Linked DNA regions of Homo sapiens: all the other regions are linked to region 1. Evidence: fine-mapped expression QTL. A gene starts in region 1. Each other region holds a variant in brackets. All regions are shown on one strand. Distances are from middle to middle.

Region 1 (8,692 bases):
TGCCTCAGCCTCCTGAGTAGCTGGGATTACAGGTGTGTGCCACCATGCCCAGCTAATTTTTTTGTATTTTTAGTAGAGACGGGGTTTCACCATGTTGGCCAGGCTGGTCTCAAACTCCTGACCTCAAGTGATCCCCCGGCCTCGGCCTCCCAAAGTGCTGGGGTTATAGGCGTGAGCCACTATGCCTGGCCTACATACAAGAATATTTCTAATAATAATTTTAAAGTATAAAAGGCAGAAAGTTTAATAATATTTACATTTAAAATAATCTATTTTTACACTTAATACTAAAGTGGTACACAGCAACATCACTTTGGCCCTCTCTCACATAAACAAACGTGGCTTTAAGAGCAATCAGATATAAACCACAGATAACACGAATGTACATGTCAAACCTGAGGAAATTTAGGTTTTTTAAAAAAAGTACGGCTAGGTGCAGTGCACATGCCTGTAGTCTCAGCTACTCAGGAAGCTGAGGCAGGAGGATCACTTAAGCCCAGGAGTTGAAGACTGCAGTGAACTACGCACCACTACGTACCACTGCGCTCCAGCCTGGGCAACAGAACAAGACCCCAACTCTAAAAATAAATACATGAAAATCAGATGTTGTAAATAAGATATAAAATAAGGAAATAAAGAATTAAAAAGACTTCAAGACGCATTTAACATGATGAAAAAAAATGAATAGATTGAAAGGAGTACACAAAGTACTCTAGTTCAATCAAATCATCACAACCAGAAAAAACTTGCCCCAGTCCACCGCTCAGGAGCTTTAGCAGCCCCATCCAAGCATTCTACTGAAATGCCAATTAAATACACACAAAGGCCTCCTAAGGCTATAAAAGAGCCACTGCCATTCTATTTGCTTTATAGAAAAATTAGTGTTACACAATATATAACTCAAATACCAAAGTGTACAAAAATTCAACTCTATAACATACAGTGCTCATCTTAAGATATAAAATCTATTCCATATAGAACAAAGGCATTACCAAAAAAATGTCAGGAATACAGTTTCATTGACGTCAAAAGTCAAAATTTAAAAGATCAGTACCTGTCTGAGTAGTGTATGTTATAAACGTATTTGCAAGTATTTTTCCCTGTTTTCCTTCAAAATCTTCATCTCCTTCTTCAGATGAAGAGCTAAACTGTTCTTCAACAAGTTTTCTGGCTGCAGCTTGGTTAGCTTTCTTGATTTCTTCAAATTTTTTCTGAGACATTAGCTCTGTTTAAAAGAAAAAAGTTTCATTTCTGCAAAACAATCTCTCAAAAAGAAAAGCATAATGTGCTAATATATCATTTTACAACACACATTTGAAAGTCACCTTTGGAGCATTCTACCTTCCTGTAATCCACGAGAAAAGTATTTTCAAATTCCTTGACACACAACTAAAGAGAATACCACAACAAAAACTTTCACTTTTCTAAGTATCCTGCTAAAATGCAGCAAATTTTTATGATAACGGTGATTAACAAATCAAGAAAAAAAATATGAAAATACAATAAAACTATCAAAATACTGGTGATCAACTTCAAAATAAGGACTAACAAAAATTAAGATGTTTTAAAGTACATTGTGCACAGTAATTTTTAAGAAGTGAGGGAACATGTCCACAGTGAGCACATAAAGAATCAGGGAAGGTAGGTATTTCAAACTACCGTCTTCTGAACAACAGGTAGGATAGGACACGACGGCCCAGCCCAGTCCAGTCCAGCCCTACCAAAGAGTTTGTACCAACAGTACTCACTATGCACCCACTATATTTACAATCGGCTTCTTAGGTCAAGAACTTTTTGCCTTTATTATGGACTTCTTGTGGTCACACAAAAAAACATATTTTACATTAATCCACACAAAGTATTAACATGGAAAACATGTTTCTTCCAACTTCATTCCAAAAAGAATGTTAATTTTGGATTCGTTCTTCCACTATTCAGCACTACCTGTACTTCTCATTTTGTTACTTGATTAATCATGCAAAACAAAACCAGATTACTTCACTGCACATACTCCCAAAGAAACTTCAAACTTCTTGAGAGCAAGGACCACAGGGATTTTCTTCAAGCACTAAGTGTTAATAAGCTCTTACGGACAGCAAACATAGTTTAAGAAAGGAGCCACAAACCTGCAGAACTGATCTGAGTTCATGAATTCCCATCTTGAGAGGATTTTAAATTTACTGATTGACTATTTTAAAATTAACATTATACTTAAAACTGATAAGCCACTACCAAGATAAGCTCTCTTATCTTGGGTGGTATATTCGTACTTGATTATGTTCCCTCATGAAACATTTTCCTTTTCTTATTGCAGCCAGTTTGGTTAGGGGTTATTAACAAAACAAATTGAGTATTTCAAGTAAACCTCGACGAAAATGTGTATCATGCTTACCTAGCAAGCTTTGAGTACTGGGAAAAAAGAACTGGCTATGAGATATATAACTCAAAACTTGTCACAAAAGAGATGATAAATGTCATTAATATACGGGAAATTAGCACTTAAAAGATACATAAGAAAACAGGCTGAACTGGACAGAGATAATGAGAACATTCATAACCTGATAAATGTATTCACCTAACATCATCTCAAAGTAAAGAGAAGCTGACAAGACAACCTTCTCACGTATTATTTCTTACAGCCAAATCTCAACTGTCCAGGTAGAGAATGCTTGTTTTCTTTTTCTTTTCTTTCTTTTTTTTTTTTTTTTGAGACGGAGTCTTGCTCTGTCGCCCAGGCTGGAGTGCAGTGGGGCAATCTCGGCTACTGCAAGCTCCGCCTCCCGGGCTCACGCCATTCTCCTTCCTCAGCCTCCCGAGTAGCTGGGACTACAGGCGCCTGCCACCCCGCCCGGCTAATTTTTTGTATTTTTAGTAGAGACGGGGTTTCACCCTGTTAGCCAGGATGGTCTCCATCTCCTGACCTCATGATCTGCCCGCCTCGGCCTCCCAAAGTGCTGGGATTACAGGCTTGAGCCACCGCGCCCGGACAGAATGCTTGTTTTCCTTCTACCCACGAGATGGAGACCATCCTGGCTAACACGGTGAAACCCCGTCTCTACTAAAAAAAAAAAACCAAAGAACAAAAAACAAAACATTAGCCAGGCGTGGTGGCAGGCGCCTGTAGTCCCAGCTACTCGGGAGGCTGAGGCCGGAGAACGGCCTGAACCCAGGAGGCAGAGCTTGCAGTGAGCCGAGATTGCGCCACTGCACTCCAGCCTGGGCGACCAGCGAGACTCTGTCTCAAAAAAAAAAAAAAAAAAAAAAAGTTTACCAAACCTGTTCACACGTCTCCATATTGTATACCTTATCATCACGGCCATTAACTGCATGCTAAGAGAATACCACCTACCTTTCAAATTAGCCTAGGAGAAAAATCATTCAAGATACTCAATTCTGCTCCACACCCCCCAAAAAAATGTATCCTGAAATGCATTCCAAACACAAAAATAAAATGATTTCAGGGATTATTCCCTCGGCCCCATGCACAATTGTGTGTAAGTCCTCCCTGGCTCCACGAAAACATGGTCTTGGATGAAAAGTATTGATATATCGGAGGCAACACCAGATATGTCCACAGAAGGACATGGAATTTGTAAATAGGAACTACAGTCAAGGAAGGTATCAAAAGCTCAAGTGCTTACAAGGAATAAGACAAGTCAAGAAACAAAGGCAAAGGTAAAGATGACAAATGACACCTGGCTCCAGAAATGAGAGAGAATGTGAGATGGAATGCCCAAGTCCAATCTAAATGGGATTTCTGTGACTCAGCCGAGCTGACTGTTGCCATGCACAAAGATAACTAAAGCCACAAGGTTGTTAACCAGATTTTTAAAAACGACAAACAACCGCTGACAATCAATCCACATTTAAAACTCTGTGTTAACCAAACAACATTATAGACCAAATCAGAACACCGGGCCACAATTTACAACTGATGGTCTGGAGATTCAAGTAGGCAAGAGTGGAGGGAAGTAACAAAGGTAATACCACCTAAAATTAAGATGAAAGAGGTGCGATGGAAATCTACCTAGAGTGCCGAAAAGAGCAGCCACCCGAAAGGCTGGAGAAGTGGGCCCGATAACAAACTCCCGAACGAGGGGAAAAGCAGTGAAAGAAAGAAGGCGAGGGCGGAGGCGGTCCTGACTAGTAACTGCCTTAGGAGGCATCCAGGTGAGCACGCGGGCGGGAGCCATTCTCACCGCTGGCTGCGGTAGTCTGCAGGGCTTGGGATCCTGCGGGGCTGTGCCTGCTCCCTGCAGCCGCCGTGGTCGCGACTCCTCCGGGACTGGTGCCAGAAGGAACTGCGCCCACCGACCCCTTCTCTCGCCCTCCTCCGGCGCCGCGGAGATGGACTCCATTTCCTGAGGGGGCGGCAGTGGCCCGTCCCCGGGATCGGCCTCGGCCACCGGCCACCTGGCGCCAGGAAGCTTCCATCCCTGCAAAGGAGAAAAAAAAAAAAAAGAGTGGAAGGAGGTGAGCGCAGCGAGGACCGAGGCGAAGGAGGGTCAGTGCGGAAACCCGGTGTGAGGGGCCGAGTGAGGAAGGTTCCTGCAGGGCGGCGACCGGGTTTTAGGAGGTCGCGGCCCTGCCTTTACCGGAGGGCGAGTCCCCGCCAAGCCCGGGCTTTGGAGATGGACCGAAGAGGGGAGGGAGGACTAGGTACAGAAATAAACCGCGGAGCAAGAAGCACACAGTGCCGAAGACAGAAAGCCGGAGGAGAAGTCGAAACCGCCTCCTCAGCCTCTGCGGGAGCGTGGTAGGGGAAGAGTCACAGACTGACCCTGCGTCTCCCGCCGGGAACCAACTGCAGTGGTACACCCCACGGAAAGCTACGTCTCCTTACCGACTGCGCACGCCCCCAACAGACTACAACTCCCAGAAGCCCCCGCCCGCGTTCCGGCGACTGCGTGGCAGCACGGGCCGCTTCCTTATCCGGTAAAGTGCGGGGGTTGGGTGGGAGGGAAACCCCAAGCGCCTGCGCTGGCCCGAACAGGCCTTTGGGAACTACAACTCCCGGCGTGCTCTGGGGCTAGGGAGGGGTCGAAGGTCATAGGGGCGCGTGGTGGTGGAGGCGGGCGGGTCCGGAGGGTTTCGTGACCCCACAATTTGCTTCTGCTTCTGCAAGACTGCCCTAAACTCACCTGGGTATGAGGATTACATGGCTCTGTCCCTAATTGGCTCTCTGCCATCTTTTATTAGCCTTGCCTTTGAGCTTGCGGATGACAGGAGGTGTCAATGTAAAATAATCAAAAGCGCGAAGTTTGAGGATAGCCTACCTAGAAACACCGACTCCAAGGAAGGAGTCAGCGTTCCGAAGTAGAGATTTAAGATTTCACTTATATAGGCAGAAACTGAGAGGTTTTTTAGCAGGATTACAGCATTTTCTCATACAAGGTTAGAGAATAGTTACAACAATTTGATTATAGACAGTGTTTCTTTTTGGGAAGTGTACATTTAACATTTTTCATAAAGGATTTTCTGTCATCTGGTCTAAGCAAACCGGGGCAACAAAGCAGAAGTTAATCTATAAGGATCATTAAGAAGGCAGGAAGTTTTTGTCCTTAACTTCGTTTAATTCTCTCTAGCCATTGTATAGAACAAGAAAAATAAGAAAGCAAGTTAATCTATAATCTGAGAAACAGAAGTTGTAACCACGTGTAACTCAGATGACAGTCACATCTCTCTCCAGGCTTAGTGAGTTTTAGGCTCCAACAACCTTTAAACTATTTATTTTCATAGGGAAGTCTCACTAACAGGAAAGGCACTTACATTGAAAACGCTTTGAGGTTGGCCACTGTGAAGGAGGGAAATTCGGGGGAGAGTTGCAGGAAAGTGGCTTGAGTAGTAAAAGTACCCTTCTAAAATGCTAGAGCCAATGTAGAAAATAAATCTAAAGCCTGTTATTGTCATAGTCCTTTGTAGTGTGCAATGAGCTTTCCCTGGGACATGCTAATTTTTACCTTCACAGCATCTCCCTAAAGTAGATTTTGTTAAGGAAAATAGTTGAGGGCCAGGACCTAAATCTTATGATTTTGCTGAGTTTTCCAATAAGATACATGTGCATATATACTGACAGGTAGATTGCAAAAATTCATTCTGGGGTCTGTCTGGGATTGAGAAACATATTGATGGCTTATTGTACAGTCCTTCAACTTAGTTAATTCTTCTATTTTAACCATAAATTTCTATTATAATATTTAGATAGCATTTATTAGATGTCAGGCACTGTTTAAAGTGTTTTACGTTATGTATTAACTAATTTGGTACTCACAGTAACCGTGTTTATTATCCCCGTTTTACAACTGAGAACACTGAGGCACAGAGAGATTAAGCAATTTGCCCTTGATCATACAGCTAGGAAGTAGTGAAGCCAAGATTCAATCCTAAGTAGTCTAGTATTAGAAACCATGCTTTTAATGTCTTAAACATAGATATTGCAGAATTGCCTGTACATTAACCAAACTCAAAAATGACATCCCATGGCCAGGCATGGTGGCTCACGCCTGTAATCCTAGTACTTTGGGATGCCAAGGCGGGTGGATCACCTTAGGTCAGGAGTTTGAGGCAAGCCTGGCCAACATGGCGAAACCCTGTCTCTATTAAACATACAAAAATTAGCTGGGCATGGTGGTGGGTGCCTATAATCACAGCTACTAGGGAGGCTGAGGCAGGAGAATTGTTTGAACCCAGGGGGCGGAGGTTGTAATGAGCCAAGATCGCGCCACTTCACTCCAGCCTGGGCAAAAGAGCAAAACTCCGTCTCAGAAAAATGAAAAGAAGAAAAGAAATAACATCTCTGAGAATGATATAACTTCATTGGCTAGAAACTAACAGGTGCACAGCAACTCTCTTAATGCTGCACTTGTATAAGAACTGTAAGTTTAAAGCTGCAACCAGCTTTCAAAGTTTGAAAACCCTAAAGTGAGACTTTTCTTCAGTGGGGTTTTCACATACAGGAAAGGAGCTGTTATACTCTGAGAGAGAATATAGTAATTATCACTGAGTAATGTCCAAGAAGTATTGAGTGGCTACTAAAAAGAGAGATCCTTCTTAGAATTATGTTATATGCCAGAGAGCTGGACTAGCATATTATCTAAATTTCCATGTCAAACTTTATTGAGAAATTTTTTCTGTTCCCTCAAATATTCAATAGCTAATAACAGTGACCAGCAATCCTTGAGTGCTTTCTATGTGCCAGCATTCTTCTAGGTCCTTTTTTCTTTTACTCATCTAATCTTCACAATAACCATGAAGTAGGTATTGTTATCGTCAAAACAATTTTTTTTTATTATACTTTAAGTTCTAGGGTACGTGTGCACAATGTGCAAGTTTCTTACATAGGTATACATGTGCAATGTTGGTTGGCTGCACACATCAACTTGTCATTTACATTAGGTATTTCTCCTAAAGCTATCCCTCCACCAGCCCCCCACCCTGCAACAGGCCCTTGTGTGCGATGTTCCCCTCCATGTGTCCATGTGTTCTCAGTGTTCAACTCCCACTTATGAGTGAGAACATGTGGTGTTTGGTCTTCTGTCCTTGTGATATTTTGCTGAGAATGATGGTTTCCAGCTTCATCCATGTCCCTGCAAAGGACATGAACTCATCCTTTTTTATGGCTGCATAGTATTCCATGGTGTATATATGGCACATTTTCTTTATCCAGTCTATTATTGATGGACATTTGGGTTGGTTCTAAGTCTTTGCTATTGTGAATAGTGCCTCAGTAAACATGCCTGTGCATGTATCTTTATAGTAGCATGATTTATAATCCTTTGGGTATATACCCAGTAATGGGATTGCTGGGTCAAATGGTATTTCTAGTTCTAGATCCTTGAGGAATCGCCACACTGTCTTCCACAATGGTTGAAATCATTTACACTCCCAAGAACAGTGTGAAAGCATTCCTATTTCTCCACATCTTCTCCAGCATCTGTTGTTTCCTGACTTTTTAATGATTGCCATTCTAACTGGCGTGAGATGGTATCTCATTGTGGTTTTGATTTGCATTTCTCTGATAACCAGTGATGATGAGCATTTTTTCATATGTCTGCTGGCTGCATAAATGTCTTCTTTTGAGAAGCGTCTATCCATATATTTTGCCCACTTTTTGATGGGGTTGTTTTTTCTTGTACTTTTGTTTAAGTTCTTTGTAGATTCTGGATATTAGCCCTTTGTCAGATGGATAGATTGCAAAAATTTTCACCCATTCTGTAGGTTGCCTGTTCACTCTGATGATAGTTTATTTTGCTGTGCAGAAGCTCTTTAGTTTAATTAGATCCCATGTGTCTATTTTGGCCTTTGTTGCCATTGCTTTTGGTGTTTTAGTTATGAAGTCTTTGCCCGTGCCTGTGTCCTGAATTGCATTGTCTAGGTATTCTTTTAGGGTTTTTATGGTTTTAGGTCTTACATTTAAGTCTTTAATCCATCTTGAGTTAATCTTTGTGTAAGGTGTAAGGAAGGAATCCAGTTTCAATTTTCTATATATGGCTAGCCAGTTTTCCCAGCACCATTTATTAAATAGGGAATCCTTTCCCCATTTCTTGTTTTTGTCAGGTTTGTCAAAGATCAGATGGTTGTAGATGTGTGGTGTTGTTTCTGAGGCCTCTGTTCTGTTCTATTGGTCTATCTCTCTGTTTTGGTACCAATGCCATGCTGTTTTGATTACTGTAGCCTTGTAGTATAGTTTGAA
Region 2 (8,692 bases), 280 kb after region 1:
AACGGCTGAAGTTTGGGCAACACTGGCTGAAATTATCTCTTTATTTTGAATTCTAACATTCCTTGACATTTGTTATTTTGTACCTGTATTCCTTGACCACCAGGCCTGCCTAACACGCTCCCAACACATGTGTGAAGAGCACCCTGAGAACACTGACTTACACATAACAAGATTCAATCTACAGGGATATGTTCAGGTAAAACCCCATAAAGGTTACACACACTAACTCTCAGCCACCTCTCCTGAGACGTAAGCATTTCCAGACAAATCCAAAATGCCTACTTATTCCCACCCCCGAGGTTTCAATACATTTTACTGAAAAGATACAGAAAATGCAGAAATAGACAATGGATTTTTATGGCAACATTTGGCTTCTGGAGATAGATCTCCCACCTGGACACATTTTCAGCCTAGAATGGTGCATGGGGAAATGTCTCACTAGGAAATAAGAATTTACGTGAAACTCAGTGTTGGCATTTGGGATCTGAATCTGGCAGCAAAGATGCAAAATGATCAGATTCCATGTGGTGAATGGAAATATACTAAATCATAGTATCTGATTTAACCCATATTCAAATAATAAAGAATAATAGGTAAGATTTATAATAGCACTGTGTGCCTGGTGCTGTCCTATGGTTTACGCATATCAACTTGTTTAAGCCTTCCAATGACCACTATACCATGTTACCTCTCCAAAAATAGCAAGAGCAAAAACACCTGTGGGAAACTGACACTAGGTGACAGCAACAGAAAGGACTCCCACTTTGCAGATCTGTGAGGGACAACAGTCCCTGGCCATATCTAGTATATGAAATATCTACCATCTGTTTAGCACTCGGAGCTAAGCATCATGGGAAGTAGGGTGCTAACTACCACCACAAACATTAATATTTAGATTTGAAAGCAATAACATGTAAATACTTCATTTGTCTTAAGTACTTTTCCTGCAATTCTAGTGAGTATGTATGCTGACTGGAGACTTGTTCAATACTGTCTGAAATGCCAGGTGAGTATTTATCAGATTATAACTATGAATTTTCCCATTTAAAAACCTAAATTAACTCTACTAACTGCCACACCTAAAGTTTAAGCCTTCATGGAGCCAATTTCTAAAGAAACAGAAGCCCACAGAGGCACTCTCTACAACAAATTTCAATTTATCATTACACATTAGCAAAACCCTCTTACTCTCCATGTGTCTGCTAAAATGATCTTCCCAGGTTCACTTGGAATTTTACTGAGAGGCAAATTTCTCTGACTCCAGGATTTCAGACCAATGTGATGTCAGAAACCTCTTTAGCAAGAACCAAAGAAATATGGGATAGATTTCCTACCTACAAAGCATTTATAATCGAGGTAGGAAATAAGTCATGGACAGCATTTTGACGCCCTAGCAAGACGAATCAAAGTTCCCAAAGTTATTTAAAATTTGAGGCAAGAAATAGAAAGATAATCATAGAGCATTATCTGTGGATCACAACTGGATCCAGAGTGCCAAAGAGCCTCAAGTGCAAGAGACAATGGTGATTTGATTGTTAAAGGAAAAAAGACTGGATATTGCTGTCTCCTGAGACTAATAAGAAGTGACTAGAAACAGGCTGGCAAATGTAAATGATGGGAAAACTACAAAAATGTTACCCTAAATATAAAATCAGAAGTTATTAGGAAAGTTTAAAACTGATGAAGAACTTGTAAAGTTGACTGACTTTCAGAGACATGTATGTGAATAATATACACAGCAATTGACTATGCTGCTAGGGGACTTTTTAAAAAATTTATTGAACATGCCACAATATTTTCAGTATTGTCTCAATGTTTTAACACAGCAGAGTCAATATGACATAATGATTGAGCACCCAGGCTTCAGTGACCAGCAAGCTGTGCTTAAATGCCAGCTCTGTGGCCCCATGCAAATTAAATAACCTCTTCTAGTCTCTATTTCCTTATCTGTAAATGGGGATCTTAAAATTATTAGATTAACATAACCTATCTCCTAGATTATTTTCAGGATTAATTGTGAGATGCTCACAGGCACATAGCATAATTTATCTGGACCCTCACAATCACTTACTGTCAGTTATTTGGTTTGTTTTTGCCTTTAAATATAAGATTTATACAATTTTTCAGCCTTTAAACTTTTTTCCCATATAAACAGCCTTAACTTTTAATATTATATACTCTCTAATTTTCTTATACAGTTCAATAAAAAAATATTTAATACAGATCTTTTAAATATTTCACTGGCATTTACATTGTTTCATTAGGTAACATACCAATAGTTTTTCACTTTCTCCTTAAGGATGAATTCAGTAAATATTCCAGGAACTCAATAAATATAGGAGTAGACAGTTAAGTTTGACTATAATGCATAAAATATCACAGAACAAACTAGGGAAATAGGATAATAGCAGAACCATTCTTTCTCTTAAAACAGAATAATATTTTAAATAACTATTTTTAAAAGTAATTTGGTCTTATTTATCAATTACCATGGAAATGTAGGCAATGCAGGGCACAGTGGCTCATGCCTGTAATCCCAGCAACATAACACTTGCTATGTTGACCACCTTGGGCAACATAGCAAGACTCTGTTTCTACAAAAAAAATTTAAAAATTACCCAGGTGTGGTGGTGTGCACCTGCAGTCCCAGCTACTCGGGAGGTTGAGGCAGGAGGATTGCTTGAACTCAGTTCAAGGCTGCAGTGAGCTATGATGGCACTACTGCACTCCAGCCTGGGTGACAGACTAAGACCATAAAAGATATGCAGGTGAAGTCTAACAACCACTCAGGACAATATTTGCTCAGTATATACTACATGCTAGATAATGCACTAAGCACAAAAGGCATGGAAGCATATGTCCACACAAAGACTAACACAAAAACTTTCATAGTGGCTTTATTTATAATAGCCCAAAACTGGAAACAACCCAAACATCCATCAACAGGGGAAACAAATTGTGGTATAGCCATACAATGGAGTACTTCACAGTAATAGAAATGCAATATTGTTATAACCAAATTAATATATGTCAAAATAATATGCTGGGTGATAGAAGCTAGTCTAAAAAAGAGTACCTGCTATATAAGTTTGTTTATTCTAGAATTCTAGAACATGCAAACTAATCTATCATGTCAAAAATTAGATCAGCGATTACCTAGGGATGGTGGGCATGAAGAGGGAGGTATGAAGATAAAGTGGCATGAGAAAACTTTTAGGGGTTATGGGCATACTCAGTGTTTCAGTTGTTGTAGTGACGGTTTCATGGATGTATACCTAATGTGAAAACTCATCAAATAATGCAATTTAAATACGTGCAGTCATTGGAGCATACCTGTATAATGCTGAAAAAAATATGGCCCCTGCTCTCGGAAACCCTGAAGTCTGGGGATACTTGGAAACTATAAAATTCTTTGGTAATAATTTAATGTTCTAAATCATAAGCTTAAAACTGCAATAACAACAATGGTAAAAGAAAAAAAAATGAGTAGAAAGATTAAGCAAAATAACTCTGGTTTATAATGGGCCAGAAGTAGGTAATTGATCAGCTCTCATTTAAATGAAGGCTCTGCCCTAGTATTTATTCCAACTTAGAAAGAACTCACCCATCCATTTGATTCACTCAGTCTTAAATGAAAATGAGTAATAAATAAAATAAATTCAACACCTCCTACCAAGGCTGCTGCTTGGTCCTAGCCTTCTCTTTATCACCCCTTCTTCAAGGCAGGTCTAATAAAGGTCACCAACTGGAAGCTCAGCAAAGGCACAGCTACTCCCTCTCCAGCACCTGCAGCAGAGCCTGGCACCTGGCAACCTGGCACCTAGCAGGTGCCCAATAACTTTGTTGAATAAGTCAATGAATGAATGAATAAATAAATAGGAGAGGACTCAACTAAGTGGAATTGCTGAGCAGTTAGACTTTTCTCAGGTCTAATTTCACAATATCCAGTTGTAGCCACCACTTTTTCTTTTCCTTTTTTTCTGATTTTTTTTTTTTTTAAGAGATAGGGTTCTTGCTACATTGCCCAGACTGAACTCCTGGGATCAAGCGATCCTCCCACCTCAGCCTCCTGAAGAGCATAACCAGCACCACCACTTTTTCTTAACTACGCCGTTTTCGAGAAGAGTTTTTGCTCATATTTTTTATCTTCTATCTTTTTTCTTTCTTCTGCTGCAGTTCTCTCAGACCTATACCACACCAGGTGGGCACAGGCAAGCCAGGAATCTCCAGGACCTGCTTCCTGGAAATAATCCCAGACTCTGCTTCCTCTCCTCTCTATTCCATCAAAGTGTACTGCTGCACATAGTAATACCCAAGTGACAGAGTAACTGTCCCATTACAATCTTCAGAGATAAA[C/T]GTAACTACTGTCAAGGGAGAGATGGTTATCATTGGATATGTTAGTGAGCATCTTTTGGCCTGTTTTTTTGTTTGTTTTTGTTTTGTTTTATTTTTCTTAGCAACAAAAAAGAAGGAAGGCCCTTTAGCCTAGGTTTCAGTTCTTAGGTTTCTATGGTTAATACTGACTAGTAGCACTTTGTTTCTCTAGTAGGACTGCGTGTGTGTTCTGAGGCTGTCCAGTAAGCACTTCATGTGTTAGGGTTTTTTTTTTAATGATACTTTATATCTTTATGAAAGTGGAAATAACTAGAATCACATAAACATGATTTCTTATCAAGAGGAACTTGGGAGAGATAAGCTTTGTAAGTTTCTGGTGGGTGAGAGTTACAGATGGCAAATAGGGCAAGACAGAAAATGCAATTTCTGGGATAGATGGTGGGTGGCAGGGGCAGCAAGTAATCCAAATACGCAATGGCCAAATCTGTGGAACAAAACCTACCACTGCAGCCCAAGGGGGAACACCATTCCCACCCCACCTCCTGGTATCCCAACCATGACCAATGGATTGATGAAGTGATAACCCAGAGCAATGACAGCCCTGAGGGTGGGAAACCCTGTGGCAATTCTCCTAAAGCCTTCCCCTGGGGCTGGATTTCTGGAAAGGTGCATCGAAAGGCTCACAGCCTCTTGGAAACTTTGCCTCTACCCTGCCTATATCTAGCCAGTTCTTCTACAAAGAAGAGCCCCACTCCCTGCTTATCTGATGTTAGTGGAGGGCACAGAGGCATGCACACAATTATGGACTGGAAATATAAATTACTTAAAACTGAACTGAGCTTTGCTAGGGAACTGCGAAAGCAGAACATTAACCTGGTCTTTAAATCAGCTGCTACTTAGCCCTATATATCTCTCTAGTTCTCTTCAATGTTAAAGAGATCACATTGCAGTTTGTTTTCTAGACGTCTTTAAAATACTAAACTGCATATAATGGCAGCTTTCCTATACCCTTTGCTACCCCCTAAAAGAGAAACATTCCCTCCTTGTTTTCAATGAATACAGTCAGCCATACCAGGTAAAGTTTCTTCCTCTCGCTTCTCTAATGGGAAGTTTGATGAGTAGATGATGAGAGTTGGGGGGAGTGAGGAAGTGGGCACAGGGAGAAGGAATCACCATAATAACACCCACAAGAAAGAGAAAATGTATTTTGGAGCCAGGTCTCTAGTAGCAGACGGTGAATTGCCCATCAACTCTCCCCTCAGTAAAATACTCAAAGAGAAATACACAGAATTGCTTCATTATGTATTCCATGGGTTTTTGTGGGTTTAATGCGGGCCAATCACTGCTTTTACTACAGTTTCTACAGGAATATTCATTCAACTGGTGTTGCAAATAACCAACTTACAGCAAACTTTTGTAATACAACCCATCAACTGTGAACATTCTGTAGATAAAATTATTTTTAAAACAATTTCTTCCACTGACTGAGTGCTTGATGATATTAAGGAAGTTCTGTTGATATTTAAGAGTGTGGTGATGGCACTAAGATTCTGCTTAAGCTGGGGGCTCCCTGACTTCTGCAGATGAATACTGAACCATCTGTAGAAGAAATGATGTGGTTTCTGCAAGACAATGGGAGTAGAAGGGATTTGTTATAGATAATGAGGTGGGAGGAAGTGTGACTAGGGTTACTTGGTTGGGTAATGGGTACACGGGGTTCACTGTACTATTCTGTCTACTGTTCAGTAAGTTGTAAATATTCTATGATAAAAGGTTAAAAAACACTTCTCAAATATTTTTTAAAGCCTGATCAAAGTTGTAACTGAATCTACTTACAAACTTTTTTTTTGAGAATAGAAAAAGAGCCCATCATAAACCAGTAAAAGCAGAGATGGCACATTTCTTAATTGCTACTAATAAAGCTTTTGCTGTCCTTTGTGGTAAAGTGCACACTGGGCTCAGAACAGGAAGCAAGCCTTAGAAACAACAACAATCCCGATGTTTATACAACTGCTCGTACAGGTCGTGTGTGCACAGCTCCTTGCATTCATCAATCTTAAAGTGCTCCATAATTAATTACAGAACCAGTGACTCTGCCAAAGTAATGAGTCATTTAGCATCTGCAATTTACTGTTGGGTAAATGGGGCACTGAGTTAAACAAATTGATCAAGGGCAAATGAGTAAGATACAGAAATCTAGGCTGCAATGTTGTACTCTTTGCTGGCTATCACAGCTAGGAGCCATAATTAAACTATTTGTTCCCTCTTAGTTTGCTCTTGCTAATGCAACTAACTCTCAATTGCTCTAGTGAAACTAACTCTCATTCATCCCTGTTGCAGAATATCTGGCCATTCTGAGAGATGCCCCCACAGTGCAAAATACAGAATCCCCACTGTCCAATAGCCACGCCACTCACTGAGTGCCCACCAGCACCTGCAACAGAAGCTTTATCTGTCTGCTTTTCTCTTCCTTACCCCCGCCTCACCTCCCTTCTGGTGGTACAGAGATACCACATTATAGCACCTATGCAGCAACCAGTCTTGGAAGGTGTGATGGTTAACTTTAGGTATCAACTTGACTGGAAGAAGGACTGCCTAGAGAGCTGGTAAAGCTTTCCTTCTGATTGTGTCTGTGATGGTGTTTCCAGAGGAGACTGGCATGCAAGTTAGTAGACTGAGTGGGGAAGATCCCTACTCAGTGTGGGCAGGCATTCTGGTTTACACGTCTTAGATCTCCCTGGGCTAAGAACCAGCAGGCCTCTATAATAGAGCTTACTGCTTAAAAGCAAAAAGTCTGAAGCCCAACTGTCTGAGTTTGAATCTCAGCTCTGCTACTTACTCACTGTATCTCCTTGAACAAGTTACTTAACCTCTCTGTGCCTACACTTCATTAGCTATTAAATGGGATGAATAATAGCACCAGAACTTCATATGATTGCAGTAAGAATTCGAAGAGTCAATTCATGTAAAGCTTTTGGAAGAACGCTGACAAACAGTTTAAGTGCTTGATCAATTTAGCTACTAATATTATTTTTGAAAAGCATACTAGCCCTTAGGAAACCTAAAAGCGAGAGCCACTAGTTTTGATTAAGAAACGATCCTCACACCTACCTTCTAGACTCCAAGAAAGATCTTCTGAGAGTTGATGCTGAATTTGACTATGTCTTATAAAAGCCATGAATGAGATGTTTCCTCAGGTCATGACAAATATCGGTTTTCTAAAATTACAGGAGGCCGTAATAGAAACGACCAGTGTCTACCAACATCCACTCTTTTCAAACAGAAAAAGAAATTAACCTTTCCTCATGGGTCTTACAATTCTGTTTTTAAAATGACGGTTGATGCTTCATGTGACTCCACTATTTTTACCCTTCGAGGCTGTTATTTTAGTTCTATCTTACAGTATGAAACCAATACTGAGCCAGCCAGTGACTAGATTAGCACTTCCTTTTTACGTTAGGAACAATTGATCTCTGGTAACTCACAGCATTTAACACACGATAGCAGGGAGCATCTTTGGTCAAAAATTCCTCTTCAAAGCACAAGAGTAATGTTACAAAGACATATTTTGCCGGTTTGTCAGGCTGTCTTGACGGCTAAGTCATATTCCGGTGAATATAAAGATTAATATATGTTTGATCCTTCTATAAACACACAATTTGGTAGCCCAAAAAATATCACAAAGCTATCCAGAGGCAGTGCAGTACAATGGTTCAGAGCTCTGGGAATCAGGCTGCATGGGCTGGGGTCCCAGCTCTGCCACATGCTCACTCTGCAACCTTGGGCAAAGTACTCAACCTCTCTGTTCTTTAGTTTCATCATCTGTAAAATGGGAATAGTAACTGTATCTGCCTCAAACAGTTCACAGGATTAAAGTTAATACTTAAAAAGCATATAAGACCATGTTTGGCACATGGTAAGCACCCAAAAATATGCTACTTCGGCATATGGATTGAGTTAAAGGCACTTAAAAAAAACAGCACATGCAAGAAGGGCACTGTGACCTTCCTTGTTCTTCTTGAAAGCATGAGATTAACTCCCATGAAAAAGGTGCCCTCCTTATACCAGGAGGACGAAAGACATTCATTCTTATCACCAGAGATGGGGAGCTGAGGCTGAGGGAAAGCTGTACAAACCTTGTTATACTAGTCCTTATCTTGCTACTTTTCCACAATTAACTGTCCTAGTCCTGAAGTGAATTCTTATACTTTCATGTTGCCTCAGCATCCATTTTGAATAGATTCAACTTTTTCATACCCAAAGCAGGGCTCAGTCACCCTTGATAGTTCTAGTTCCACACCACACCCAAATGGCTCAGGCCAGCAGCCAGAGATAAGAATTTAAAGGCATCTCTCCT
Region 3 (4,000 bases), 110 kb after region 1:
GGAAAGGTAAGGGGCTGAATACTGAATGAATAATAATCCAAACTATCACAGTAGAATAGATGGTGAGACCCCCAACTGGAAATATCTTGCGGTGATTAAAAAGGTAGTTTTATACAATTATTGACTTTCTTAAAACCAGATTTCTATTCCATGTAATAAACTGGATAATTTAAATTATTATTTAAATTTATATTATTATTCTCTATAGGCAAATATTTGACAAATTATTTAAAGCATTTCATCCTTATATAAACATGAATAATAAATTTCAACTGGCTTTTTCTTGTACTTTATGTTTTTATTTTTCTGAAATAGAATGCTGGCTGGGAATTGGGTTACTTGGCCCTGGTTTTAGCAGTTACATAACTTTGGCCAGTGTCACTTAATATATTGGCATCAGTTTCTTTAAAATATCTCTCCTCTATCAGTGCCTATGAGTTTAGAACTGGTCCATCAGCAACATTTATGAGGCACCAGTATTGTAAGTAATTCTGAGAACAAACATAGGTTATGATCAAACTTTAGAATCATTGAGTCAAAGTCCCTCATTTTACAGATGCGGAAACTGAAACCAAGAGCCATTACTCAACTTGCCCATGATTATAGATAGTAGATCTTCATTTTTAAATGTTAAAGGTGTGTGTATGTAAACTATTACACCTGTACATAGAAGATAAATATTAGGTTGAAACATATGAAACTACTTGTCATAGGGTTCAAATTGTTCAGTTATCATCAATTTCATATAGTTCAACATAATATAAGAACATTAGAAGTACTGTTTGTGGGACCTGTAAATTACTTAAATATCAATCAACTATAAAACAGAAAAATTAGTTGTGTGATAGTTATACAGTGGAATTCTCTAGAACAGTGGGGAAAAAACAAATCCTGCAGCCTCATGCATCATGTTTTGATGAATCTCAAAAACAAGTCACCTAAGAACAAATTCTTTATCATTACACTTTCATAGGTGCAAAAAGAGGCAAAAGCATTTTCAAGATATATGGAGAAAATCTTTTTTATAAGCAAAAGAATGTTAAAGAGAAAATCAGGATAGTTACTAACTCTGAGGGGTGATGCTTTATTTCTTAAACTGGCTGGTTGATACATTGGTGTGTATATATATATATATTTATAATATATATTTCCTAAATATTCATTATTCTCTATTTAGAAAAATAACATCAAAGAAGAAGTACATGTTCGTGGCTAGCAAGAGTGTACTTTGGTACAGTCACTTTAGAGGACTATTGATAGTGTCTGTTAAAAATGAAGCATAATGAATGGAGTAGATGTTCTCTTTCTGTGGAATAAAGTCTGGATTAAACTCCCTGGAAAATTACTGTGCTTACTTAAATCTTGATAAGCCAATTGTGACTTGAGATGTCTTTGATTCCTTTAAAACACTCCAAATTCCCTGCCCACACACCATCCATTACCCATCTCTTCCCTTCTCCCGTAGGCCACTCCACATCCACTAACCCATCCTTTCTTTCCTCTTTCAGTCATATCTGCTGTAGGCTCTCTCCCTAACATGTTCCCAAAGCATAAAACAATTTAAGTCCTAAGGTCAGTAACCAGACAAGATTTTTATTATTTTTCCTGCCATAAAACTTGGAGCATTCATGCCTGCCAGTTGCAATGAGAACTTGCAAAATGCAACAGTGATCATTTGATCTCCCTTATGACCCTCTGCTCCCACACCCCCTACAATGTCAGAAACATTTTGCTGTATCAACAGCTTAGAAGGAATATTGTTTCACTGGAATGAGATCTACCCACACTGATTTCAGAGACAAAGTTTTGGAGTGGTTATGTTAACTGCATAGTAAATGACATGAATGCAGCCATGGAATTCACTGGTAAGTCAGGTCCGATGTTTTCTTAGGAATGAATGTAATCAAAATTCTTACAAAAATATACTTAATCACTTTCCCTTCTTGGGGCTTAGATGAGATAAACATCGTGTGGAACAAGATTGCTAAGGGCTAGCTTGCTTGAAAATTTGCAGCATCAGCCTGGCCAACGTAGTGAGAGCCCATCTCTACAAAAAAAAACTAAAAAAATTAGTTGGGCATGGTGGTGCATGCCTGTGGTTCCAGCTACTTGGGAGGCTGAGATGGGAGGATCATTTAAACCCAGGAGGTCAAGGTTGCAGTGAGCCGTGATGACACCACTGCACTACAACCTGGGTGACAGAGTGAGACCCTGTCTCA[G/T]AAAAAAAAGAAATGAAAATTTGCAGCAGTTAGGATATTTAGTTTTGACTTTGAGTTTATTCTGGATTTCTATTTCTTTGTTTTGTTTTGTTTTTGTTTTTGTTTTTGTGGAGATCTCGCTATATTGCCCAGGCTGGTCTTGAACTCCGGGGCTCAAGCAAACCTCTAGCCTCTGCCTCCCTAAGTGCTGGGATTACAAGGGTGAGCCACCATGTCCAACTATTCTGGATTTCTGAAACAAAGTTGGATCATTTTCAAATTACAGAGATAAATGAAATAATAGTCATGAAAACCTTGAATTCCATTATTTTATTATTTTCCAGACCTGAACTTCATGGGTGTTTCTTAACTTTGCATGTGGTAAAATTCAGGTGGCTTCATGAAGCTTTGCCAGGGGTACATAGGTCCACTTATGGAAGTCTTGTTGCTAAGACATCATTTGATCAAACTGCCTCTTGTTGCTTATATGCCTTCTTAAGATTTTTGAAATGTAAAACTTTTCTAAAAATTGAATTACAAAATTGTTTCTGATTAATTTTCCTTTACCCTCTTTTGTTTAGGGTAATTCATAATGGGAGAATTTGCCATTTTTAAAGGAAAGATGGGAAGACAGAACATCTTGTCACAATGTCACCTTGTTGGTGTCTTTTCAAGTGGAGAACAGATTATAAAAAGTTTCTTACATAGTGTAAAACGTTTTCATTTTGTATTTTAGTGTTTAGCCTCAAAATTCCAAGACATTTATAATAGTGGACTTGGTTCAGGGGATTTACATGCTTCTTTGAATCTCATTTTTTAAAAAGCCTAATGATATTTAAATTCTTTTTATTAGATTCCATTTTCTTTAGGACAAAGTGGATTAACAGACCTGAAAAATCAACTAAACTAGAAAACTAAACCCACTTTTAAAACGTTTTTTGAAATATATAACTCTTCATACCCACCAAATGACTCATACCCCACCAAATGAGTTAGACAGATTTCTTCTTTTTTTTTTTTTTTTTTTGGAGATAGTCTCGTTCTGTCACCCAGGCTGGAGTGCAGTGGCGCGATCTCAGCTCACTGCAGCCGCCTCCTGGGTTCAAGTGATTCTCCTGCCTCCACCTCCAGAGTAGCTGGGACTATAGGCATGCACCACCATGCCCATGCCCCGCTAATTTTTGTATTTTTAGTAGAGATGGGGTTTCACCATGTTGGCCAGGCTGGTCTCGAACTCCTGATCTCAAGTGATCCACCCGCCTTGGCCACCCAAAGTGCTGGGATTACAGCCATAATGCTCAGCCAATTTCTTTTTTCTTTTTTTCTTTTTCGAGACAGGGTCTTGCTGTTACCTAGGCTGGAGTGCAGTGGTGTGATCGCAGCTCGCTGCAGCTTCATCCTCCTGGGCTCAAGCGATCCTCCCTCCTCAGCCTCCCGAGTAGCTTGGACCACAGACGTGCACCACCACGCCCGGTTAATTTTTCAATTTTTTTTATGTAGATGGGGTTTCACTATGTTGCCCAGGCTGGTCTCAAACTCCTGGGATCAAGCAATCATCCCACCTTGGCCTCCCAAAATGCTGGGATTACAGGTGTGAGTTACCATGCCCAGCGAACAGATTTCTTGCAATGTGATTTCTAGACTGAGGTTGCTATGCTTTCTCCCTACATTCAGGCCCCACAAGCCCTGCTTTCCAGTAGCCAGGCTGATAATGCAGAGTGAAGTGGATGTGATGGGCTGTGTTGAACTGTTGAGCACAAGCCGGTCTGAACAGCTATTCGCTGCTCCATCAAGTTGCTGAT
Region 4 (8,692 bases), 62 kb before region 1:
TCATGTCACAATTTAAGAGGTCTGTTAGAGAATCACTTTTTTTAAAAAGCACAAAGTTAACAGTATCAAGAAAAGTACTCTATCATAAGTAACCAAAACATTAAGAAATATTTCTCTTACTGCAGATATGGCTCAGTCTCATCTGAATTATTTTTTTAAAAGTGTTGGTTTGAATTATTAAATGAAAAAACTAAGTACAAGGAAGCCCAATGAACAAAAACACGTTACTCTGCCTCTAGCTAAGCCTTATGAAATATTTTAGTTTCAGTCATGCCTTCACTTTAAAACAGTATTATACTGCCCTTTCTAGTATACTAATTAAGATAAAGTTTAACATTCTGTCCTTCTAACAACAGCTGAGAGAATACAGAGATGAATGTAAATATATATCATGTTCTATAATATACATTTTCTAATATTTCAAATTTAACAACTTATCTAAATCCAATCTGAGTTACATTAAAAGATCAAAACTTTTTTTAATTGACATCATGGGTGATGTACCAGGCAAACACTACAACCACAACTCCACACACTGAAATGAGATAATATTTATGTTTTTGCCATAGTGATAGCTCAACTGCCACTTCATCTCTTTTCCTGTTCTTCTTCCGACGACCCTTCAGTCTGTTTTCAAAAGCTTCTAGTTCAGCCTAAATAAAAACAGCATCATTTTAATTAAATTCAATGCATACATTGATTTGAAAGTTTCCATTTACATAAAAATCAATTTGGGTAATGTTTTAATAGTAATGATATATAGTCAATATATTGATTTGATTTTTTAAAACACTACTCTCCACTACTGATTGTATTCAACAAATTCAGGGTTTAGGTAAGCAGAAAGGAGACTGGGAGATAACAGAAGAGAATATTTCAAACTGTAGGGCTGACTATGATACTAAATATTAAAATGTCTGATTAGGCCGGGCACGGTGGCTCACGCCTGTAATCCCAGCACTTTGGGAGGCTGAGGCAGGCGGGTCACAAGGTGAGGAAATCAAGACCATCCTGGCTAACATGGTGAAACCCCATCTATACTAAAAATACAAAAAATTAGCCGGGCATGGTGGCGGGTGCCTGTAGTCCCAGCTACTCGGGAGGCTAAGGCAGGAGAATGGCGTGAACCAGGGAGGCAGAGCTTGCAGTGAGCCGAGATGGCGCCACTGTACTCCAGCCTGGGCAACAGAGAGAGACTCCATCTCAAAAAAATAAATAAATAAATAAATAAAATAAAACGTCTTATTAAATCAGGATGCTCTAAAATATAGACACTGGTCTTATACATTGACACCATTATACTTCAACCCAATTATTATAGAACCAGCATTCTATAAAGCTTCTAGCAAGTGCTGTGATGCCTAGTGAGAATGAAGATACCTATAATTCTAGTTGTTTACAATGCATGCAATAAACATTAGTGGCTTTTAAGAAAGAAATTCAAGTGAGTAAAGAGAAAAAAGCTGCCAGAACTCGATTCTTCTCTACCAAATACATTTTTTAAAAATAGTAAAAATTCTTCAAAGGAAAAAATTCTTCATGCTTTAAAATCAAAATGACTATTTTAGACATAAAAATTTTAAACTAGTACTAAAAGACGATAACTGAATTGCATTCAATATCAAATGGGGATTTTTATCCTACTGCTAAGTACTTATTAAACTTTTACACATAATAATGTAATATAATATGCTATAGTGCATAGGTAATTAAGACAATAGTTAAAATATATATGTATTTAATAATATCCACCTAAAACTTTGTAAATGGTTATTTAATAGGAGGAAATGTAAACTTTAGTTCACATATCCATTACTGTGGTCATAAACCACACTTGAAAAAGATCTAATAATAAACTTAGTTTAATACAAAGTGGCATTCTTCAATGAGCCAAAATGTCAGACTACTCCCAAGTGGTTAGTTTCTGACATATAAAAAACGTCAAAATATCTTAAAAGCAGGCAAACTTGAGGACTACAGACACAGTAAAATAACTGACAGTTAAATGGTGACTCACAGTCACCAAGTATATATTATGTGCTGTATACAGTGATCCCTCAGTATCTGTAGGAAATTGGTTCTAGGATCCCCTTGGATATAAAAACCTGAGGATGATCAAGTCTCTACATAAATAGTGGAGGATTTGCAAATAACACACAAACATCTTCTTGTATACTTTAAATCACTCTAGATTTCCTATAACACCTAATAACAATGTAAATGCTATGTAAATAGGTGTTACACTGTATTTTAAAATGCGTATTATTTATTTTTTTTTTTTTTTACTTGTTTTGAAACAAATTTTCGATCTGTGGTTGGTTGAATTCACAGATGCAGAACCTACATATACTAAGGACTGATTATATTCTGTTTAAAGAGTCAGTAAACAGGGAATGTATCTAAGATTTTCATCCATGATGATTTATAAAAAGATAGCAAAGGGAATAAGGAGAAAACATACTAAACTATTCTTAATAACTTAATCTCCTAGGATTCCAGCCAACTTATGTTTTACTATTTAGCTCTGATAACTTATTTTGGGGATATCAGGCAAATCAACTTTACAGAACCATAAAATCTCAAAGGTCACCTTGGCCAACCATTATTTACTACATGAATTGTTTCTAATGTTCCTAATTGTTCTAATTGTTCCTACAACTCATCAAAGTTTGAATTTCCTTATTCATGCAAATCACGCAAGTTTCAATCTCATCATTCATAAAGGCAGTAGCTTAGCACACAATACAATCTGATAAGTATAAAGCATTTCAAGATACAAACTGACAAATAATAATAAAAAGTTATACATCACTATTAGAAAGTCAAGCCACTCTTTCAAGTGTATGATCAATAAAGTAAATACTTAAACAGGGAGTATCAGGAATGTACTTGTTCTCTAGGTAACAACAAAGAACAGGTTATAATCCCGCATTTAAAGATCTAATAGGGAAATATGGGAATATATTATTAAAACAAATGTACTGATTAGTAAACTGCACTTATTTGTTATAGGTGGTCTGCAACTCAGTAAAATAGAACTCAAATACTTTTAGTTAAGTAAAGTCATGGTCTCCAGAAGATGCCTTACAATGGTGATGATTCGCTCACTCTCACTCCCCAGCCAAAGGAGGAATTAAAATTCTTCTGGCTGAAGTATGGATGATATTGGCAAGAAAGTAAATTGGAAATACAAAAAAAAAATTTGGGAATATATGAGATCTCATACCTTTTCAGAGTTTCAGTATACTTAAAGTCAAGTTAGTAGATGGCTCATTTTTGTTTTACAAGAACTGTTATTTTCAGTTCACAATAGAGACTAGACCTTAGTTTGACCTTGGAATATACCCCGTGTTTGCACAAAATCTAGCAATGATGCTAAGAGACATAAATCTGGGTATTTTGTTTGGTTACCTGTTGTCTTCGTTTTTCTTCTTCAAGAGCAGCTTTGGCTTCTGCTTCTTTTATCTGTTTATACACATACAAAAGTCAATTTACAATTTAGTCATCACATTTTATATGGAATTTTAACATCTACCCATCCAGGTTCTATTAACCCATATCAACTTTTAGGAGCTTGAAATCATTTAAAGAAATGTAAATGCTATACTGAGACAAGGTTTTACCAAGGCACTATCTAATAAATTGAAGGTGGTCATGGATGGAGTGTTATACCTTATATGAGCATCTCAGCTTAACAAGTAAAATCGGTATTACATCGTAATTCAAAGAGTTAAAACACTGTAACAGCAAATTTTAAAACTGCCTTTTTTCCTCTTGAGTTGCTGTATTAAGAATCTAGAATTAATTATTAAATACTGCTGTTTCTCTAGAGTTAAATTTATCTTAAATGTGCTATCATGGAAGGGAATCCTTACTTTCAAACAAAATCAAGAGGTCACTGATTGGGTTGATGGAGGGGAAGAGTAACACTAGAGATAACCCAAGCAGCAAAGAATCTCAAAATCTTATAACGGGCATAGAAGATGAAAAGCCTTCATATACACTAGGCAATGAAAATCCCAATCTGCCATTCAAAATAAGCCTATAAAACTAGGCTTTTATTATAAAAGCAAAAAAATGAGATTTCAAGTTGTTTTTAATAAGTACATAAATGCACAAAATAAGAAGGGAAAGGCCACTAGTCTTTAAAATGATATTTAACGAGACATTACCTCAGATGCTTTCCGCTTCATTTCCTTGCACGTTGTGTCACATTCTATTGAAACCTGATTTTCACGTACTTTGTTGCACTGCAATTCCTACAAACAACCCGATTTTCAAATTTTAAATGATTTTTCCCTCAAAGACCTGTCTGCCATAAAAAAGCAAAGTTCATCTGATAGCTTAAGGTTATAAGTATTATTTGATGTCTTAATATTTAATGATGATATAGTTGCAAGCATTAAATATCTGCTTCAAATAGTGATTACTTGCTTATTTTCTCTTAACTTAAAAAAGAGAATACCATAAAATTTTTAAAAATCAACTTAATAATTACTATGTGCCACTATTGGACTTAGCTCCCATGTTGTTTTTATTCTTTACTTTTCTTTATTGTTTGTTATTCTTGCAAAGTGTCCAGGGAATACAATGTTCTACAAATGTGCTGTCCAACAGAGCTTCCTGGTATGTGCGTGGGATGGAATGTTGTAAATCTGCATTAGTCCACAGAGTAGCACTAGCCACATATGGCTACTGAGCACTTGAAATGTGGGTAGTGAAAATGAGGAACCAAATTTTTAATACTGTTTTATGCTAATTCATTACAATTTGCATTTAAATATCCACATGTGACTAGTGGCTACCATCTCAGATAGTGCAGCTCTAGAGAGTTTTCTGGGGAGCTACAAATTTTTCTCTCGACTGTTAAACTTTTTTTAAGTTTAGATGAAAATTGTTCTAAAGCTTATGTTGGCACTTCACTACCTCCTTAATGAAAGAACACTGATCTACTGTTTTTGATGTCTTGACATCAAAACTATGACCAATTTCTGTACTACGACAGAATAAAACGATGACCTACTGAGTTGAAGAGTGGTCTTTATATTAGTTTTAGACTG[C/G]CTTTTGTAGTACATCTATCTTTTATTCATTCATTTATTGCTGCCAATGTCACTTTTACTCTCAGTATATTTAATTTGTATCAGTTTCTCCTGTCTCACCAGACCCTCAGACTCTAGTTTTTTGTTCAAATCTACCACAGCTTAGACATGAGATTACCAAATCCTGAGTAAAGTGCATTTAGTAAAAGCATTTTATGGCATGGAATTTTATTACTTGGAGGGTTTTTTTTTTTTTATTCCTTAGTTCTTCATTTTTGGCTTGATTTAGTGATAAACATAGTCTTGTCCTCCAAAGACAGTCCAGACATAAGAAAATTAACATGAACAAACACTGGAGACAAAAATAAGTATCGTGTGTTTATAGACATTAAGTCCATCAGCTTAGAAGAGGATTTTATCTTTTCTCATTCAGAGGATACTTACAGAGTGCCTATAACATGCTAAACACCATGACAGGGAAATGGAACACAGTAAGAAATAAACAGTATAATCATCTGTTAAGTGCTAAATAAATAACAATAGTAATTGCAGCTACTATTTATTACACATAGCATTGTTTTAAATGCTATGTAAGCACTACCTCTTTTATAGTAATGGCAGCTACTATTTATTAAACATAGCATTGTTTTAAATGCTATGTAAGCACTACCTCTTTTATTCCTTTCAATAAATCTCTATAAACTCTATTTTACAGATGAGGAAACAAGGTTACAGATACCTAGAATCACAAAGCTCTACATTATGAACCCAGTACAAAGAAAGTCAAGAGGAAGGAACAGCTAAGCCTTCCCAAGGGAACCTGGGGAAGGAAAACCTTCTCAAACAAGGAAGTGCTTCCAATAAGTATTAGCAGGATTCTAGTAAGCAGAGAGCTAAAGGAAAAACATATTGTATTTTACACAGGAAAAAAATATATATACATTGCCACAGCCTAAGCTAAGCGAGGGTACAATATATGTATTAGGGCACTTAAGTAACAGATTCACAGAGATGATTGCTAGATGACGAGACTGAACAAGCAGGCAAATGTCTTATCATAGCCTCCCTGGTATGCCGAGTCTGCATATACCTACACATACACATTTTTTATACAATGCACTTTTTCCATAAGTGATGAAGAGCCATTGAAGAATTTAGAACAGGGAAGTGGTGTGACTAGAGACAAGGAAATGGGTCACGAAGTTGTGGCCAAAGCCCAGAAAAGAGTTGTTCCAAAGTACTAACGGGTGGGTGGCATATGGCACTTGGACAAGACATGAGATTTCAGAGAAAACTTAAGAGACATCTCACATTAAAAATGGCTTGACCAAGTATTTATTTTCAGGTACAGGGGGTCAATTTAAATATCTAAAACTTAAAGATTCCACTCCCTAAAAGGCCAAGTGTATAAATTTAAATTCAGAAGTTCCCTATCCTAGGAAAACATATCAGAAACTATGAACATAAATGAAAGGCAAAGGACCTATAAAAGATCCTCAATACATATCCATCACATGGATGAATAAAAGCGAATTTCAAGAGACAAAAAAGACAAGCTTTAGGGAATGACAATAGGAATATGAAGGAAAAAAAAGGAGTTACGACTATAACTGAGATAGGGTAAATCAGAGGTCAAAAAAGTTGGTTTCAAAGGAGTAAGCACTGCCAACAGGGAAGATCAAGGAAACAGAGAATTGAGAAAAAGACTATTAGGACAGTATATTTTCCTTCATAAGTTTTGTTGAGCAGTATATAGTTTGTTTCCATCAGGCTTTGTAATCATTAGTTTTTGCCCATTTACTCCTCTGTTACCATCATTTTATCTTAAAATTAGTTCTTTCCAAGTTTACATGTTATTTTACTTTATAAGGCTATTCATATGAGGTCTTTTTAAGGCAATATTTTCAAAGGACAATACTGATGGTAAAAAGAATTTCATAAATAACAGCAACAAAGTTAATCTCAAGCCATTTCTTAAGCAATGAAACATTCTACCCGTTACATTGTGTTCCTTGTTCAAAGACCTCAAATCTAAAGCACATTGACCAAAACAGGGCATTGAATTTGGTTCCAACATAAAAAATAATTTTCCTTTTACTGTTAAATTGCAGAAAATTAAATCGCCAAAGCTTATGTTTAAAATAAATGTTTAAAGAACTAGTAGGCTCATTTCAATAATAAAAAAGTTCTATGAAGTAAAACCTCAAAATTAAAAGGCAAAAAAAAAAAAAAAAGCCAAACAACTACCAAAACACATAGATCAAAAAACAAGAACAAGAAAACCACACAAAAACAACTTATATAGAAAAGTATTTTCAATAACTTAAAATATTTACCTTTTTTATTCTTTTACAAGGACATCTAAGTTTTACCTTCTGGTTGCAGTTAAAGGGACATTCACCAGGATGACACATCTCTTTGCATCTATGACCACAAGGAAGCTAAAATAAAATCAAAATAAAGCAATTACATACTTACATCTTGATCATACTCTAGTTTCCCCCATACCCCAACAATTTTAAGAGAGTCCATCACACAAAGGGTCAATCAATCCTAGCTAATGGGATAATTTGTAAACTATTTTTCTTTTAGATATAAATTATTTTAATTACACTTATATAATTTAATTATATATATATAATTTAATTATATTTAATTATTCTCCCCAGCTCCATTCCAACAGTACATCTTACAGCCACCCTTGTAGCTAGTTATAGCCATATAACTGAGTTCTGGTCAATGGAATGTAAGCAAGTACAGGTGATTCATGCTTCAGATCATTTCAAGAGTATACTTCCATGTTCTTCTCTTCCCCATGTCCTGGATATGATGAAAGCTGGAGCGGTAATGGAAACCATATGCCAAAGAGAGCAGAGCTGCCAGCTGACTTGGATTCATGGGTGAACACATGGAATACAATGACACACCTACCTTCCCTGTACTGCACTGTGGGAAAAAAAACAAAAAAGAAAATGCCCTGTCCTTATACGGTGTTATAACTGTTTAGCCTTTTATTCTACAACATTTACCCTTTCTACTAATATTAAAAAAATATTATTTAGGTAGCCAAAACAACTCAGTAATTGCCATGATGTTTATGCTCCGTGTCTTTAATTGTTTACTGTCTTCCTATCCTAGTCAAGCATTAAGATGAAATGTTCATGGTCTCTCTGTCTATTCAAATCTTATCCACACTTTAAGACATGACTTAAATCACCATAATGGCCTGATATAAATCTGCCTATACATAAATACATAATAGTAGTTAAGAAATCTGTTTCTAAACTGTTGTAACATTGCTTGTGGTGTCTTGAAATTTTGCAAAAAAACAATTTTTTTTAGGCACTTCATATATTTCTGTCTCTCCAACCCTAACAAATAAAATACACTATTTGTTAGGGGTTAAATGTCAAAGTCAGACTACCTGGAACTGAGTCCCAGATTACCTGTTTACTAACTACAGGATCTTAGACAAGTCACCTGACTTCTCTGTGTTTCACATGTAAAATTTCACATGTAAAAGAGTATTAGTACTTTATAAAGCTGTTGTGAGGATTAAATGAGTTCAGTATATTTAGTTATTATAATAAAAGTTGTTATTATTATAAGTTCCTTGAGGGCAATGGTCAGACAGTCATCAACTTACGGTGGTG

Direction of the effects. Alleles are on the strand shown, and positions count from the first base shown. SD is a standard deviation of normalised expression in the study named. Not every link is listed here.
As copies of C replace G in region 4, the expression in whole blood of the gene that starts at base 4,814 in region 1 goes down (large effect, 1.1 SD a copy in Lepik 2017).

What was found. PIP is the estimated chance that this variant, and not a neighbour inherited with it, causes the effect.
Region 2: its variant is the best candidate, but not a certain one, in a credible set for the expression of NFXL1 in whole blood (INTERVAL, PIP 0.89).
Region 3: its variant is the best candidate, but not a certain one, in a credible set for the expression of NFXL1 in whole blood (INTERVAL, PIP 0.71).
Region 4: its variant is the best candidate, but not a certain one, in a credible set for the expression of NFXL1 in whole blood (Lepik 2017, PIP 0.63).

The regions. Positions count from the first base shown.
Region 1 is chr4:47,909,770-47,918,461 of GRCh38, forward strand. NFXL1 (nuclear transcription factor, X-box binding like 1) reads right to left here and starts at 4,814. Exons shown (of 23, transcript NM_001278624.2): 1 at 4,596-4,814; 2 at 4,200-4,436; 3 at 1,055-1,225. The coding sequence starts at 4,434. It overlaps LOC101927157 (a long non-coding RNA gene), which reads left to right and starts at 4,458. Exons shown (of 3, transcript NR_125879.1): 1 at 4,458-4,935. RefSeq lists enhancers at 3,682-4,368, 4,369-5,054, 4,565-4,794.
Region 2 is chr4:48,189,179-48,197,870 of GRCh38, forward strand. All of the region lies in intron 2 of TEC (tec protein tyrosine kinase), which reads right to left. Among named protein-coding and RNA genes, the nearest start is that of TXK, 59 kb to the left of the region's middle. RefSeq lists enhancers at 6,906-6,955, 6,976-7,025, 8,585-8,692. The variant C/T (reference allele first, on the strand shown) is at 4,357.
Region 3 is chr4:48,020,770-48,024,769 of GRCh38, forward strand. All of the region lies in intron 1 of NIPAL1 (NIPA like domain containing 1), which reads left to right. Among named protein-coding and RNA genes, the nearest start is that of NIPAL1, 6.0 kb to the left of the region's middle. The variant G/T (reference allele first, on the strand shown) is at 2,220.
Region 4 is chr4:47,847,684-47,856,375 of GRCh38, forward strand. It overlaps NFXL1 (nuclear transcription factor, X-box binding like 1), which reads right to left. Exons shown (of 23, transcript NM_001278624.2): 20 at 7,376-7,480; 21 at 4,173-4,259; 22 at 3,412-3,465; 23 at 1-653. The coding sequence ends at 480. The region is part of intron 1 of LOC101927179 (a long non-coding RNA gene); the gene reads left to right. Among named protein-coding and RNA genes, the nearest start is that of CORIN, 14 kb to the left of the region's middle. The variant C/G (reference allele first, on the strand shown) is at 5,061.